Linked DNA regions of Homo sapiens. The protein of the gene in region 1 interacts with the protein of each later gene in a pairwise test. Each region holds a gene or a part of one and is shown in the gene's direction. Other genes may lie near its edges.

What was found.
Region 2: the proteins of ATL1 (region 1) and PANK2 interact in binary tests that used the Homo sapiens proteins (3 or more experiments, as listed by UniProt).

What each region holds. Positions count from the first base shown.
Region 1 is NC_000014.9:50,584,027-50,591,509, forward strand, and holds part of ATL1 (atlastin-1), read left to right. Parts: intron 1-3,804; coding exon 3,805-4,052; intron 4,053-6,914; coding exon 6,915-7,049; intron 7,050-7,483.
Region 2 is NC_000020.11:3,913,217-3,920,699, forward strand, and holds part of PANK2 (pantothenate kinase 2, mitochondrial isoform 7 precursor), read left to right. Parts: intron 1-3,710; coding exon 3,711-3,834; intron 3,835-4,277; exon of another isoform or gene 4,278-4,355; intron 4,356-5,454; coding exon 5,455-5,580; intron 5,581-7,483.

The sequences.
Region 1 (7,483 bases):
TACAAATAACAACTTCTGATGGACTAGGAACTTAAGTATCAAAAGCAAACTTTAAAACATAGAAAAGTCTGGGCACCGTGGTTCATCCCTGTAATGCCAGCACTTTGGGAGGCCAAGGCACGTGGATCACTTGAGTCCAGGAATTTGAGACCAGCCTGAGCAACATGGTGAGACCCCATCTCTACAAAAAATACAGAAATTAGTGGGACTTGGTGGTTGTGTGTGCCTGTAGTCCCATCTACTCGGGAGGTTGAGGTGGGAGGATCGATTGAGCTCAGGAAGCAGAGGTTGCAGTGAGCTGAGCTCACACCACTGCACTCTGCCTGGGTAACAGAGTGAGACCCTGTCTCAAAAAACAACAAACAAATAAACTTAGAAGAATATATGTGACTATTGGCCGGGCGCGGTGGCTCACGCCTGTAATCCCAGCACTTTGGGAGGCCGAGGCGGGCAGATCACGAGGTCAGGAGATCGAGACCATCCTGGCTAACATGGTGAAACCTTGTCTCTACTAAAAATAAAAAAATAAAAAATAAAAAATGCGAGGTGGCGGGCACCTGTAGTCCCAGCTATTCAGGAGGCTGAAGCAGGAGAATGGCGTGAACCCGGGAGGCGGAGCTTGCAGTGAGCCGAGATCGCGCCACTGCACTCCAGCCTGGGCGACAGAACGAGACTCTGTCTCAAAAAAATAAATAAATAAATAAAAAATAAAATAAAATAAAATAGAATATATATGACTATCTTTCAGATCTTGTATGTGGAATCATTTCTTAAACATGGTATACAAAATGTTAACCATAAAAGAAAATATTAATAAAATCTATTACATTAAAATTAAGAATGCCTTTTCATCAATTATAGCTTAAGGAAAATGAAAAGGCAAACTCTTAGAAACTAGAAGACTCTTGCTATGCATGTAACTAACAAAGGGATAGCATTCAAAATACATAAAGAACTACAAATCAGTAAGAAAAAGACAAACTACCTAATAGAAAAACGGATAAAAGGAGTACTTATCTTATTAGCAATTAGAGAAATGTATATCAAGACCACAGTGAGATAACATTTTATACCTCTGCAACTGACAAAAACAAAGTCAGATAAAACCAAGTGTTAGAAAGGATATGGATCAATAGGATGTTAAATTGCTGGCGGAAGTGAAACATTTATATAGCCACTTAGAAAAAGACAATTTTGCTCCATGTTTTAAAGTTGAATATTTGAAAAACTTACAACCCAGAAATTCCATTTCTATGTGCATTCTCCAGTACCTTTTGCATATGTGTAGTTTGTTGCAAACAATTATTTCAGTCTATAGAAAGTTATGATCTAGTTTTCTGCCCCAAAGCTGTTTCTCTATCCAAAATATTATGTCTAGCTTGGGTCTGTGATTCACATTTGTGTGCTCAGATCATAATTAAATCATAGGCAAGGAGCGTCATCAAATAAAATATGTATTTGCTATTCTCAAAAAGGGCCTTTGTACTGAGACTGAAATTAGGTGGTAGGTAGGACTGTAATCAGACATGAATAGATAATAGTATTAATAACAGTCACCATTCATTAAGCATGTACTATTTGTCAGATTCTTCAATCTTTATTTAATGGAAATTACTTTGTTAAGTCTTCACAAAGGCTTTCTGATATGGGTACCATTATGAATCTTTTTAAAATGGAGCATAGTGAGCCATTGGGAAGCTAAATAATTTCCACAACTTTATGTTGTAAATTGTAAGGCTGGGATTTAAACAAAGGCTCTCTGACTCCAGCACCTGTGAAATGGCAATATAGAAGCTATTATCTTTCAGATAAAAAGTCAACTTTTCTTAACTTTGCAGAGAGAACAACTCTGATTCGTGGCTATAGGCAATGGTCTGTTGTCTCTAGATGCTTTGTATGATTGTTCAGAAAGTAGTGGTGTATACTTATCTCTACTCATGCAAAACTAAAATTATATATTTTCAGTATTTCAATAGCATTATTTTATAGATGAACAGCAATAAAGTTATCAATGTGATATATATATATCAATGTGATCTGAAGACTTATTTAAAATTATGCCAAGAGATGATTGCCTTGCTTTTATCTAGTTATAAAACTTCTTATCAAATAGACATCATGAAGAATGTCTACCTAAAGATATTTTCAAAAATTTAGATAAAAGATTATTTAAGAGTCCAGTTTGTTTCAAAATTATTATCATTGTCTTAGTCACTCTGGGCTGCTGTAACAGAAAATCATAGACTGGGGTGGCTTAAACAACAAACATTTATTTCTCACAGTTCTGGCAGCTGGATGAGATGAGACTGCCAGCAGGGCTGGGTTTTTTTGTAAGGGTCTTCCTCCTGGTTCATAGACTGCTTTCTTCGTGTATCCTCATAATTCAGAGAAAAGGGGCTCTGGTTCCTTAATTTTCTTATAAGGGAACTAACTCTATGATGGGAGACCCTCGTAACTTAATCTAAGCATAATCTAAGGCCTCCCAAAGGCCTCATCTCTAACATTGGGGATTAAGGTTTCTACAATAGCAATTATTGAGGGTTTCTTTGAGGCTAGGTCATATATCTGATCTGAGGAATTAATTGGTGTATGTATAGACTTTCTGTTCTTATGATATAAAGCAAACGAGCCTATGTATGTGTTGTCCAAAAGTTATTTGATTGCTACCAAAGAGGCAGAATTTTTTTTTTTTTATTGTAGTAGAAAGATCTGGGATGAAAGTTTTGACTCTTGCAATCTAATCCCAGTTTGGCAGTTACCGTCCATGTGAACTTGGACCTGTAATCTGTCACTTTCTAATAGTTGTGCTCTTGGGAAATTTAATTAGATTCTTAATTTTCTCATGTGTCAAAAATACAGATAATAATAAATACCGTACTGGAACATTACAAAGATTAAATAAATAACATGAGAAAGATATAGAAATCCTATATGAGGAAGTCTACCATTTCCTTCCTTCTAAATTCCATTTCCATCTCTTGGGCAAGGTCAGTCACATCTTTGGCTTTAATTTCCTCATCTATAATAATACCAATAGCATGCTTGAGAATCTGTGATTCTGAGCCCTTCTAGGTATTTCTTCCTATATATGTTCAGCTTTAAAAAGTATTGCAAGGATCCTTTATGTAAATAAGCTATTTCTAGGGGATAAAGAAAGTGTGAACTACAACCATTTTATTCCTCTGCTCCAAAAGTAGAGTGCTTTGCTTTGATTTTCTTTCTGACTCAGCAGACAGAGACATCTGCACTGACTTAGAGTTTTCTTGAAAAATTTTTTTGATTCAGTCATATGATCAGAAAGAACAAATGTAAGTCCTCCTGGGATATAGTGTGAATGACATTAAAATATGTCATTAAAACAAACATTTCTTTTCTTTCTTTCTTTTTTTCTTTTTCTTTTTTGAGACAGGGTCTCCCTCTATTGTCCAGGCTGGAGTGCAGTGGCACAATCATATCTCACTGTAGCCTTGACCTCCTGGGCTCAAGTGATCCTCCCACCCCCGCCTCCTGAGAGCTGGGACCACAGGCACGTGCTACCACACCTGACGAATTTTAAAATTTTTTGTATAGACAGGATCTCACTATGTTGCCCAGGGTGCTCTTGACTCCTGGGCTCAAGCGATCCTCCCACCTCAGCCTCCCAAGGTGCTAGGATTACAGGCATGAGCCACTGCACCCAGCATAAAATGAGCATTTATAATTCCAGTATGCTCCTGTGTCGGATGTTTGAGAGTTAAGAGGTACATATACATTTCTTGGCACTTTGAGATGATTAGCTGAACCAGTCACTGCTCTGTTCAACAGGTGGATTTTCGGAAAAGACATATGAATGGAGCTCAGAAGAGGAGGAGCCAGTGAAAAAGGCAGGACCAGTCCAAGTCCTCATTGTCAAAGATGACCATTCCTTTGAGTTAGATGAAACTGCATTAAATCGGATCCTTCTCTCGGAGGCTGTCAGAGACAAGGAGGTTGTTGCTGTATCTGTTGCTGGAGCATTTAGAAAAGGAAAATCATTCCTGATGGACTTCATGTTGAGATACATGTACAACCAGGTATGCAGGAAGTACTTTAAAAAGTTTTCTTTCTTCTGTGCTTCTGTCACTTCATGTTTTTATTTCATGGTGTTCAAAATTTTCATTTCTATTATTATGTACCCTATATATGAACCAGCTAAAGAAATGCTGTGGTGTAACCATTCCAACCTCAGTGCTTTGGGGACCAAACTACACAGACCAATTTTCTCTGAAGCTGCTTTGCTGCATTTCCCTTAGAATATAACTTATATTTTTATTCTTTTAAAAATAGGCACATAATATTCTGATTATAGACTTAAATGTTATAGTGTTTAAAATGTCACATAATTTTTGTATTGTAATCACTTTTTTCCAACATTTAGTATGAAATATTTCAAGCATATAGCAAAGTTAAAAAAATTTTATACTAAACATCTTGGTATCCACCACCCAGATTCTACCATTAACATTAGTATTCCTGCTTTATCACTTATGACTCCATCTATTCATCCCTCTTTCCAGCCATCACTCCAAGTTATTCTTTGATGCATTTGAAAATAAATTGCTGGCCGGGCACTGTGGCTCACGCCTGTAATCCCAGCACTTTGGGAGGCCGAGGTGGGTGGATCACGAGGTCAAGAGATCAATACCATCCTGGCCAACATGGTGAAACCCTGTCTCTACTAAAAAAAAACACACAAAAATTAGCTGGGTATGTTTTCCTTGTCCTTCAAGGTTATTTTTCAGGCTTAGGATTTTTATGAATATCTCAATGTAGATCATTGACTCAGAGTGAATGTTATGGAAATGTTATTATGCTAATTAATAATAATCACAATTTATTCATTGAAGTATGCATCCCAAGACATTTTTCCAGGTAATACCTTATTGGAAAAATTTCAATTTCTACCTCAATAGTAATTATTTATTGACTACCTGCTAAATGTTCTAGATTGTGCTAGGCACTATGGTGGATACCAAAGAAAACATACCATAGATTTTGCACTTAGGCATCTCATGGTTTGGCCAAGGAGACAGAATAACAATAGGTGAAATATTTAGAGCATCATTACATGGTGATATGGTGACAGATATATTTTTTCTTTTCTTTCTTTCTTTTTTTTTTTTTTTTTTTTTGATACAGAGTTTCACTCTTGTTACCCAGGCTGGAATGCAGTGGCGCAATCTTGGTTCACTGCAACCTCTGCCTCCCGGGTTCAAGGATTCTCCTGCCTCAGCCTCCCAAGTAGCTGGGATTACAAGCATGCGCCACCACATCTGGATAATTTTTTGTATTTTTAGTAGAGACAGGGTTTCACTATGTTGACCAGGCTGGTCTCAAACTCCTAACCTTGTGATCCACCTGCCTCGGCCTCCCAAAGTGCTGAGATTACAGACATGAGCCACCATGCCCAGCCTGATCGACGTATTTCTAAGTGTAGTTCAGGGAAGGGCATATTGTAGGCAAAAGTAACTGGAGAAAGCTTCATAGAGATATTGGAAGTTAGAATAGATTTTGAAGATGTGTGGATCTGGACCAGAAAAGGAAGAATGGACATTCTGGACTATGAGGAATAAGTATAATATATGTATTAAACAGAGTGTACACCTTCTTCCCTAGAGTGGAAATTAAGTATTGGAGATGAAGAAGAAATAAGATTGAATAGGTTATTGAGCCAGATAATAGAACAAATTCACAGAAGAACCAAAGCTCTTGATAACGGTCTAAAATGCCTTTTAGAACAAGATAGGATATAATTAAATACATTTTTCTTTAAATTAGTTTATGTAGATTTTTTATCAGTCCAAGTAGTCCTCTCCCAAATTCCTCTGCATTCGTTACTGTAAGGTTTTAGATTGGACAATTATCTAATGAGATCTTCCAAAAACTAATAACTTATTCTCTGTAACAGATATCAAAATGGGGGTAACTACTATCAACCAAGGTCACCAATTACTGACTTACTAAATCTATGGGATATTTTCCATGCCTTATCCAACTTGATCTTCAGCCTTTAAACAATTGATAATTTTTCCTATTCTGTCTTCCTTTGGCTTCTCAAACTCCACTTGCATCAGTACTTGTCTATTCCTTCCTGCTGTCCTGGCCCTGGTCAGACCTTCAATCATATTTTTGACCTTTATTATAGCACCCCCACCTTTATCTTTTCTAGCTATCATTTCCCTTCCCTACTAACTAGCCCTACCTACTTCTAGAATAGTATCTTTCTACCACAACTATGATGATAATTCATCTCTGCTTCTTCATAACTTTCCGTCGCCTGCAGGATAAAATCTGACTCCCTTAAGGACCTTACAAGGTCTTTCAGAATCTGGCTGTCTGTCCAGCCTCTTCCTGCTACTTGCTTCCTCCTCCCACAAAACCAAAGCATAATATGCTCCCTACTTCCTTCCTTTCTGCCTGCCTGCCTGCTTGCCTTCCTTTCTGGAATGCCTTCTCCAAATTTGCTTCCCTGGAAAATTCCTAAATATTTTTCAAGTCTTAGCTCAAACATCCTATGTGGTCTTGCCTGACCAATGGTTAGTTATTTATTTTCTATGCTACCATTTATGCATTATATATACTTCCATTTTGGCATGCATTTATTGCATCATAATGGTTTGTTTGCATGTCTGTCTCGCTGTTAGGCTGTGAATTTCCTCTGGTCTGCAATGATATCTTTTCATTTTTATATCCCCAGGACATATCAAAAATGTGGCAGATGGTTGCTCCTCTGTAATTATTTTTTGGATGAATAAAGTGATGGTATCAATGCAATAGATGTGCATATGTTGTTTCCTTTTAACTCGAATTGGAGAGGGATAAGAATCAGAATGAATGAATGGAAAAAACTATATACACATATCAAGTTCCATATCATAGACTTTATCATTTTATAGGAATCAGTTGATTGGGTTGGAGACTACAATGAACCATTGACTGGTTTTTCATGGAGAGGTGGATCTGAGCGAGAGACCACAGGAATTCAGATATGGAGTGAAATCTTCCTTATCAATAAACCTGATGGTAAAAAGGTATGATGCTAACTTCCTAAATAAAATTGAGTTTTCACTTATAACAGTTACTACTTTTTAGGATCCTTGAAGTTGCACTTTTGAAAATTAATTTTGACCATTTGACATGAAGCTTAAAGTGGGGTAGCATCCTATAGCATGATCTTTGTTTCCCTTTCTTGTGATCAGAGTAGGCGAAATTATAACGATGATAGAACAGCAGATCAGCAAGTAACATCTGTATTTTGTTTCACTGCTACATAAAGTTTCTGTTACGTTGGATTACTAGTAAAAATTACTTATAATAGTAATCAGCTGTTAATATTTTTATTTTCTGTGGCATTCATGGCATGTGTAAGAAATTATCTAAAATAGTATTGATTAATAATGGTTTGCTTTAGTTCTTATATTAATATTATGGTAACCCTAATGACCTAGATGTTCTATAAAATATC
Region 2 (7,483 bases), on another chromosome or scaffold:
CTGAACATTTCATATAAGTGGTATCATACAGTATATGATCTTTTGTGATTACTTCTTCATATAGCATATGTTTTCAAACATTCACATTACAGTGTGAATCAGTACTTTATTCCTTTTTATTGCCAAATAATATTTCTTTTTTCTGAGACGGCGTTTTACTCTTTTTGCCCAGGCTGGAGTGCAATGGCGTGATCTCGGCTCACCACAACCCCCACCTCCCAGGTTCAAGCAATTCTCCTGCCTCAGCCTCCTGAGTAGCTGGGATTACAGGCATGCGCCACCAAGCCTGGCTAATTTTGTATTTTTTAGTAGGGAAAGGATTTCTCCATGTTGGCCGGGCAGGTCTCGAACTCAGGTGATCTGCCGCCTCAGCCTCCCAAAGTGCTAGGATTACAGGTGTGAGCCACCGCGCCCGGCTGCCACATAATATTTCATTACGTGGATAATACTACATTTTATCCATTTATTGGTTGATGAACATTTGGGTTGTTTCCATTTTTTGGTTATAATGTTGAACATTTATATGTAAGTCTTTGTATGTATGCACACACACACACACATATATATATATATATTTTTTTTTTTTTTTTGAGACGGAGTCTTGGTCTGTCGCCCAGGCTGGAGTGCAGTGGCGTGATCTCGGCTCACTGCAAGCTCTAGCTCCTGGGTTCATGCCATTCTTCTGCTTCAGCCTTCCAAGTAGCTGGGACTACAGGTGCCTGCCACCACGCCCGGCTATTTTTTTTGTATTTTTAGCAGAGATGGGGTTTCACTATGTTGGCCAGGATGGTCTCGATCTGCTGACCTCATGATCCGCCCGCCTTGGCCTCCCAAAGTGCTGGGATTACAGGCGTGAGCCACTGCGCCTGGCCTGCACATATATTTCTAATTCTATTGGGTATATACCTGAGAGTAGAATTGCTGAGTCATATGGTCACTTAATGTTTAATCTTTTGAGGAACTGCTACACTGTTTTCCAAAGTGGCAGTCCCATTTTACAATCTTAGCAGTTTATGAGCGTTTATATTTCTTGTCAACATTTGTTATTATCTGTCTTCTTGGTTTTAGTTGTCTTAATAGGAGTGAAGTGATATCTTGTAGCGTTTTTATTTTTTAAGAGGCAGGGTCTCGCCCTGTTGCCCACATGAGAGTGCAGTGTTGCGATCATAACTGGCTGCAGCCTGTGTCTCCTGGGCTCAGGTGTTTCTCCTGCCTCAGTCTCCTGAGTCACTAGGACTACAGCTGTGCACTGCCTTGCCTAATTTTTTTTTTGTAGAGATAGGGTCTTGCTATGTTGCCTAGGCTGTCCTGGCCTCAAGTGATCCTCCCACCTTGGCTTCCCAACATGTTGGGATTACAGGTGTGAGCCATCACTCCTGGCTGAACATTTTTTTTGTGTGTGTGGCAGGGTCTCTCTCTGTTGCCCAGGCTGGAGTGCAGTGACACCATCTTATCTCACTGAAACCTCTACCTCCTGGGTTTTAGTGATTCTTCTGCTTCACCTCGCAAGTAGCTGGGATTACAGGCACACCTGTAAATTATGCCAACATGCCTGGCTAATTTCTGTAATTTTAGTAGAGATGGGGTTTGGCCATGTTGGCCAGGCTGGTCTCGAGCTCCTGACCTCAAGTGATCCACCCACCTTGGCCTCCCAAAGTGCTGGGATTACAGGTGTGAGCCACTGTGCCCAGCCCGAACATCTTTTCATGTGTTTACTGGCCATCTGTCTGTAGTCTTTGGATAAATGTCTGCTGAAGTCTATTGCTAAGTTTTTAGTTGGATTGTCTTTTTATTATTGAGTTCTGGATACAAGTCCCTTATTAGATACATAATTCGCAAATGTTTTGTCCCATTTTGTTAGTTGTCTTTTCACTTCCTTGATGGTGTCCTTTGCAGCATGGAAATTTTAAATTTTGATGAAGTTAATCTTATCTATCTTCTGTCACTTGTGCTTTTGGTGTTATGTGTAAGAAATCTAAGATCATGAAGAATTGCCTAATTTAAGATCATGAAGAATTGTTTATTTTCTTTTAAGAGTTTTATAGTTTTAGCTCATATATATATATGTGTGTGTGTGTATTTTTTTCTTTTTTTCTTTTTTGAGATGGAGTCTTGCTCTGTCACCAGGCTGGAGTGCAGTGGTGCGATCTCGGCTCACTGCAACCTCCACCTCCCGGGTTCAAGCGATTCTCCTGCCTCAGCCTCCTGAGTAGCTGGGACTACAGTGCGTGCCGCCACACCCAGCTAATTTTTGTATTTTTAGTAGAGACAGGGTTTCACCATATTGTCCAGGATGGTCTCGATCTCTTGACCTCGTGATCCGCCCACCTTGGCCTCCCAAAGTGCTGGGATTACAGGCGTGAGCCACCACGCCCGCCAGTTTTAGCTCTTATATTTAGCTCTTATATTTGATCCATTTTGAGTAAGTTTTTGTGTATGGTGTGAGGTAGAGCTCCAAGTTCATTTCTTTTTGCGTGTGGATATCCAGTTGTCCTAGTACCATTTGTTGAAAAGATGATTCTTTCCCTGTTAAATTCTCTTGGCCCCTTTGTCAAAAATTAGTTGACCATAGATGTTTGGGTTTACTCCTGGACTCTTAAGTTATGTTCCATTGATATATATGTCTGTTTTTATACCAGTACCATACTGCCTTGATACTGTAGCGTTGTATTAAGTTCTGAAGTAAGAAAGTGTGAGTCATCCAACTTGTTCTTTTTTCGAGATTATTTTGGCTATTCTGGGTACCTTGAGAATATGAATTGTAGGGTTAACTTGGCAAGGTCTGTAAATAAGACAACTGGGATTTTAATAGAGATTACATTGAATCTTTTGGCCATCCTAATACAAAGTCTTCTGATCCAAAAAGATGGAATGTCTTCCCATTGATTTAGATCTTTGCTTTCTTTCAGCAGTGTTTTGTAGATTTTATTGTACAGGTGTTAATACTTTTGTTAGATATATCCGTAAGTGTTTTATTCTCTAATGCTATTATAAATGAAATCATTGTCTCCATTTTGAGATCGTTTAGAAGTACAATTGTTTTTCGTATATTGGGGCACATGGCTTTTACTAATAGAAAAATCATATGTATACATGCTTGTTTACTAAGTTTTAGGCACTTGGTCAATGCTGTTGATTTTCTGTTTGTAACATTTGCTCGTTGGTCATCACTTCCTTTTCTGATTGGAAAATTATTGTAGCAGTTCTGCTGAGCATGTACTTTGAAGTACTTTATCTTCTAGGGAAACCTGAAATTCTTAAGCAGCTCACTCTGGGACTCAGCTGTCTGTGCTTTACTCTGCTCTGATAGAGCAGTTTACCAGATGTGCATGTGGCCATCTGAGTGGAACAGCTGTGCAGTTGAGATGAATTGCTGTTAGAGGTGTTGTCCTGGAACTGTCTGGTTGCAGGAGCAATGGTGCCTTCCAGTGCATCTGATGAGATTCTAACTGAATATGTGAATATCTGGTATCCAAGCTAGATTTCAGTAGAAACCGCAGGGAAAGCTGTCTGCTCATTTAGAATGTTGGAGGGCTCTGTTTGAAGTTTGCATTTCTCTTTGAACAGATGCTCCATTGCAAAATAAAAGGTTTGAAGATTTCAACAATGTTGCCCTAAAAGCTAATTTTATTTCAATAAAGTAACATTCAAGTTCTGTTGGGCTTTGTTGCTGTTGGTTTAGCAATGGGATTTTTTTTCCCCCATCACAGCTTTGGAAACATGATGAGCAAGGAGAAGCGAGAGGCTGTCAGTAAAGAGGACCTGGCCAGAGCGACTTTGATCACCATCACCAACAACATTGGCTCAATAGCAAGAATGTGTGCCCTTAATGAAGTAAGGGGACATGGATTTCTTTAATTGCTCTAAGGAAAATACTGAACTTAAGTGGGCCCCATCACGTCTGTTTTCTCAGAACAGTGCCTAAATGTAGTCATTTGGGGTGGGGTTTGTTTTAGCACGAAGTTAAAACTCTTCAAATACAGATTAATCTTCTTTTTTTTTTTTTTAAACTGAAGATAAACATTGCTACTTGTCTAGAGGTAAAATGACATCTTTTGAGGAGAAAGTAGAGGAAGAGTGGAAGGTAGCCAGTGTTCCAGATATTGGGGACTGTTGGGGGTGATGATGGATAACGATGCTGAATGTAGACTCCACACTCACTGCTGAGCTCTAGAGGCCCTAGGGAGGAATCCAGAGGAAGTCACGGAAGCTGGGAGAAGACTGAGCAGGCCGAGGGGTGCCCTCCTTGGCTCCCCCACCTCAGCAGAGCTGCGTCTTTGTGCTTTCAGCTTCTTTACAGTGCTGCCTTGTAGCATTCAGGTCAAGCAGCATTGTACAGGGCTATGAAAGAACCAAGAATGGGCTGCCCTTGGGAAAAGAGGATCTAGGATCCAGTTGGTGCAGCTTATGGCTTGTCCCTGTGTGTATAGTTGTTAAATTATTCTTTTATTTTTATTTTTAAGAAGTTATTCTTTAGATAATAATAGGCATGTAGCTTAAAAGGAAACCTCAAAAGACACAAAGGATTTGTCTCATTTTAAATTAAAAAAATACTGTATCAGCATCAAGTAATTAAACATTTGTTGGAATATCATAACTTCTTTTTTCTTTATTGTATGTTCCCTTTCCTGTGCTTACGTATTTTCAGAAATTTTAGTTGGTGTGCATACCACAATTTGTATTTTATACTTAAATATACATTTCATGGTTGTATATTTATTTGATCAAGTTCTTTTATATCAAATAACAGAGCTTGGCATTTGGTTGCTTGCTCATAACTCGGCAGTAAGCATTTTTAAGCATGAAGTTATTCTTTGGTTGAATTTTATTCTTGATATGGGGCTTAGGAGTGAGATTTCTGGTCTACAGAAATGATCATGCTCATGAATTTTGACATTTATCGTCATGATGCTTTGCACAAGGGCTGCACCAATTTAGATCATCTTTAGCGGTGAATGAGTGGATTAATTTTACTACAACTACTGATGGTGGTGGTGGAATTTCAGTTGCTTTTTTTTGCGAGGTTAATAGGTCTAAAATTTTACTTTTGTTTGATGACTAGTGGTTTGAATTTTTCGCTGCCTGTTATATTGCTTGTATACTTTGCCTGTTTGTGTCACTGTCCTTTTGGATTGGAGTCATACTGTTTTTTTTTGTTTATTTTAACTTATCTGTATAAAACATTGTATTCAAAACTAGTTATTGTTGGTCAGATTTAATACAAATGTTTTTCCTAATCTGTTTTCTTCTCCTGTGACATTATCTAGCATGCTTTGCAGTGGGTCCAGAGTTGTCTGGGGATCAAGTTTAAGTAGCCCTGGACCAACTGGACTAAATTTGATCAGCAGTCAAATTGTTGCTAAGAGCTATGCACATGGTGCTGTATTTGGGGTAGCTTTTATGAGAAAATAGAAATTAAGATGAAAACTAATTGCCTTTTTTTGGTGTGCTCAGAACATTAACCAGGTGGTATTTGTTGGAAATTTCTTGAGAATTAATACGATCGCCATGCGGCTTTTGGCATATGCTTTGGATTATTGGTCCAAGGGGCAGTTGAAAGCACTTTTTTCGGAACACGAGGTAAGCTGACTTGTTCGTTGTGGTATATTATGTACACAGAGGGCTTGTGGGTCACACTGTCATGGAACTTGAGGTAGAGGGTGGAGGTGAAATGGGCTGCAGTGTTTCTTTTGTTTTTTGTTTTTTTGAGACGGAGTCTCGCTCTGTCACCTAGGTTGGAGTGCGTGGCACAGTCTTGGGGCTCACTGCAGCCTCCGCCTCCTGGGTTCAAGCAGTCCTCCCACCTCAGTCTCTTAAGTAGCTGGGATTACAAGTGTGCGCCCCCACACCCTGCTAATTTTTGTACTTTCAGTAGAAATGGGGTTTCACCATGTTGGCCAAGCTGGTCTGGTCTCAAACTCCTGACCTTAAGTGATCTGCCAGCCTCAGCCTCCCAAAGTTCCAGGATTACAGGTGTGAACCACTGTGCCTGAACTTTTTTGGTAGTTTAATTTCGTAACATTTGAAAGCTGTTTCTTCCCTGATACTAATGCAAGGTAAATTTTGGGTTAATTTAATTGTAAGCTTAAGGAATTTTAGAGAAAAACCCTTGAACATTCCCCTATATTTCTGATGCCATATTTTTGTCTGAACTATCCTCTATATTTTTTCTATTGCACTGACTGTGTCATTACTCTGGGTTCTGGTTTTTTCATTTTTTTCAGTGCCAGTTTTTATATATTGTTGTAATTCTTGTGCCAGTTATTTAAGATGCATGTTGTAAAAATGAATAGATGAGTAAACCTCTCAGACTAGAACCATACTATCATAAGAACTTAAGTACAATTGTAGACAGGCTGGAAATGATGAAATGGAAAAGAATCAAATTGCTCAACCTCATAGCCTGTCTTGGAAAGCACTCTTATTTTTCCTATTTGGGGAAAAAGAAGCAGAGGTATGGAAAGGCGTGTAGGGGTTCTTTCTTCCCTTCTTGGTTGTGGGGCAGTTGAACTATTCTTTCAACTGTTCTTGGATTTTAGATACTGTTATTATGAACATTTTTCAGAATTGTATTGCATATTTAGTTTAACAGTCTATATGAATTAAAGGAAATCAAAGTCCAGATAATAGCACAGATTTGAAGTGCTAGAGATTACTTTTTCCTTTAAAGTTACTTTAAGTTTTTCTTTTTAAATTGCTTTAGTTCATAGTTGAAGTCCAAAGTACACAAATCCCCATATCAAAAAGCTTAAAATTGAAGTCATCTAACTTAGTTTTAAAATTCTAACATTACTGTATTTGTAAACCAGCACCGAATTGCCATTAAGTTTCTTACAGTTCATGTTTCTGTATACATCTTTTTTTGTGATCTGACTTATTTTATTTTGCTTTATATTAGAATTTTTTAAACTCGAATGTTAGATCTTTTTCTGCTTTATTTCTGCCTCTTGTTTAACCTTTTCCTAGGTAGAACATGGAGATTAGTTTTTTAAGTTAACCTTAAAAAAAAAATAGGCTGGGTGCGGTGGCTCACGTCTGTAATCCCAGCACTTTGGGAGGCTGAGATGGGCAGATCACCTAAGGTCAGGAGACCAGCCTGGCCAACCATGGTCAATGTGGCAAAACCCTGTCTCTACTAAAAATACAAAAATTAGCTGGGCGCAATGGCGGGCGCCTATAATCCCCAGCTACTCGGGAGGCTGAGACAGGAGAATCTCTTGAATCTGGGAGGCGGAGGTTGCAGTGAGCTGAGATCGCACCACTGTACTACAGCCTGGGCAACAGAACGAGACTCTGTCTCAAAAACAAAAACAAACAACAACAACAAAACAAACAAAAACACCAAACAGGCCAGGTGCAGCGGCTCACGCCTGTAATCCCAGCACTTTGGGAGGCCGAGGTGGGCGGATCATGAGGTCAGGAGTTCAAGACCAGCCTGACCAACATGGAGAAGCCCTGTCTCTACAAAAAATACAAAAATTAG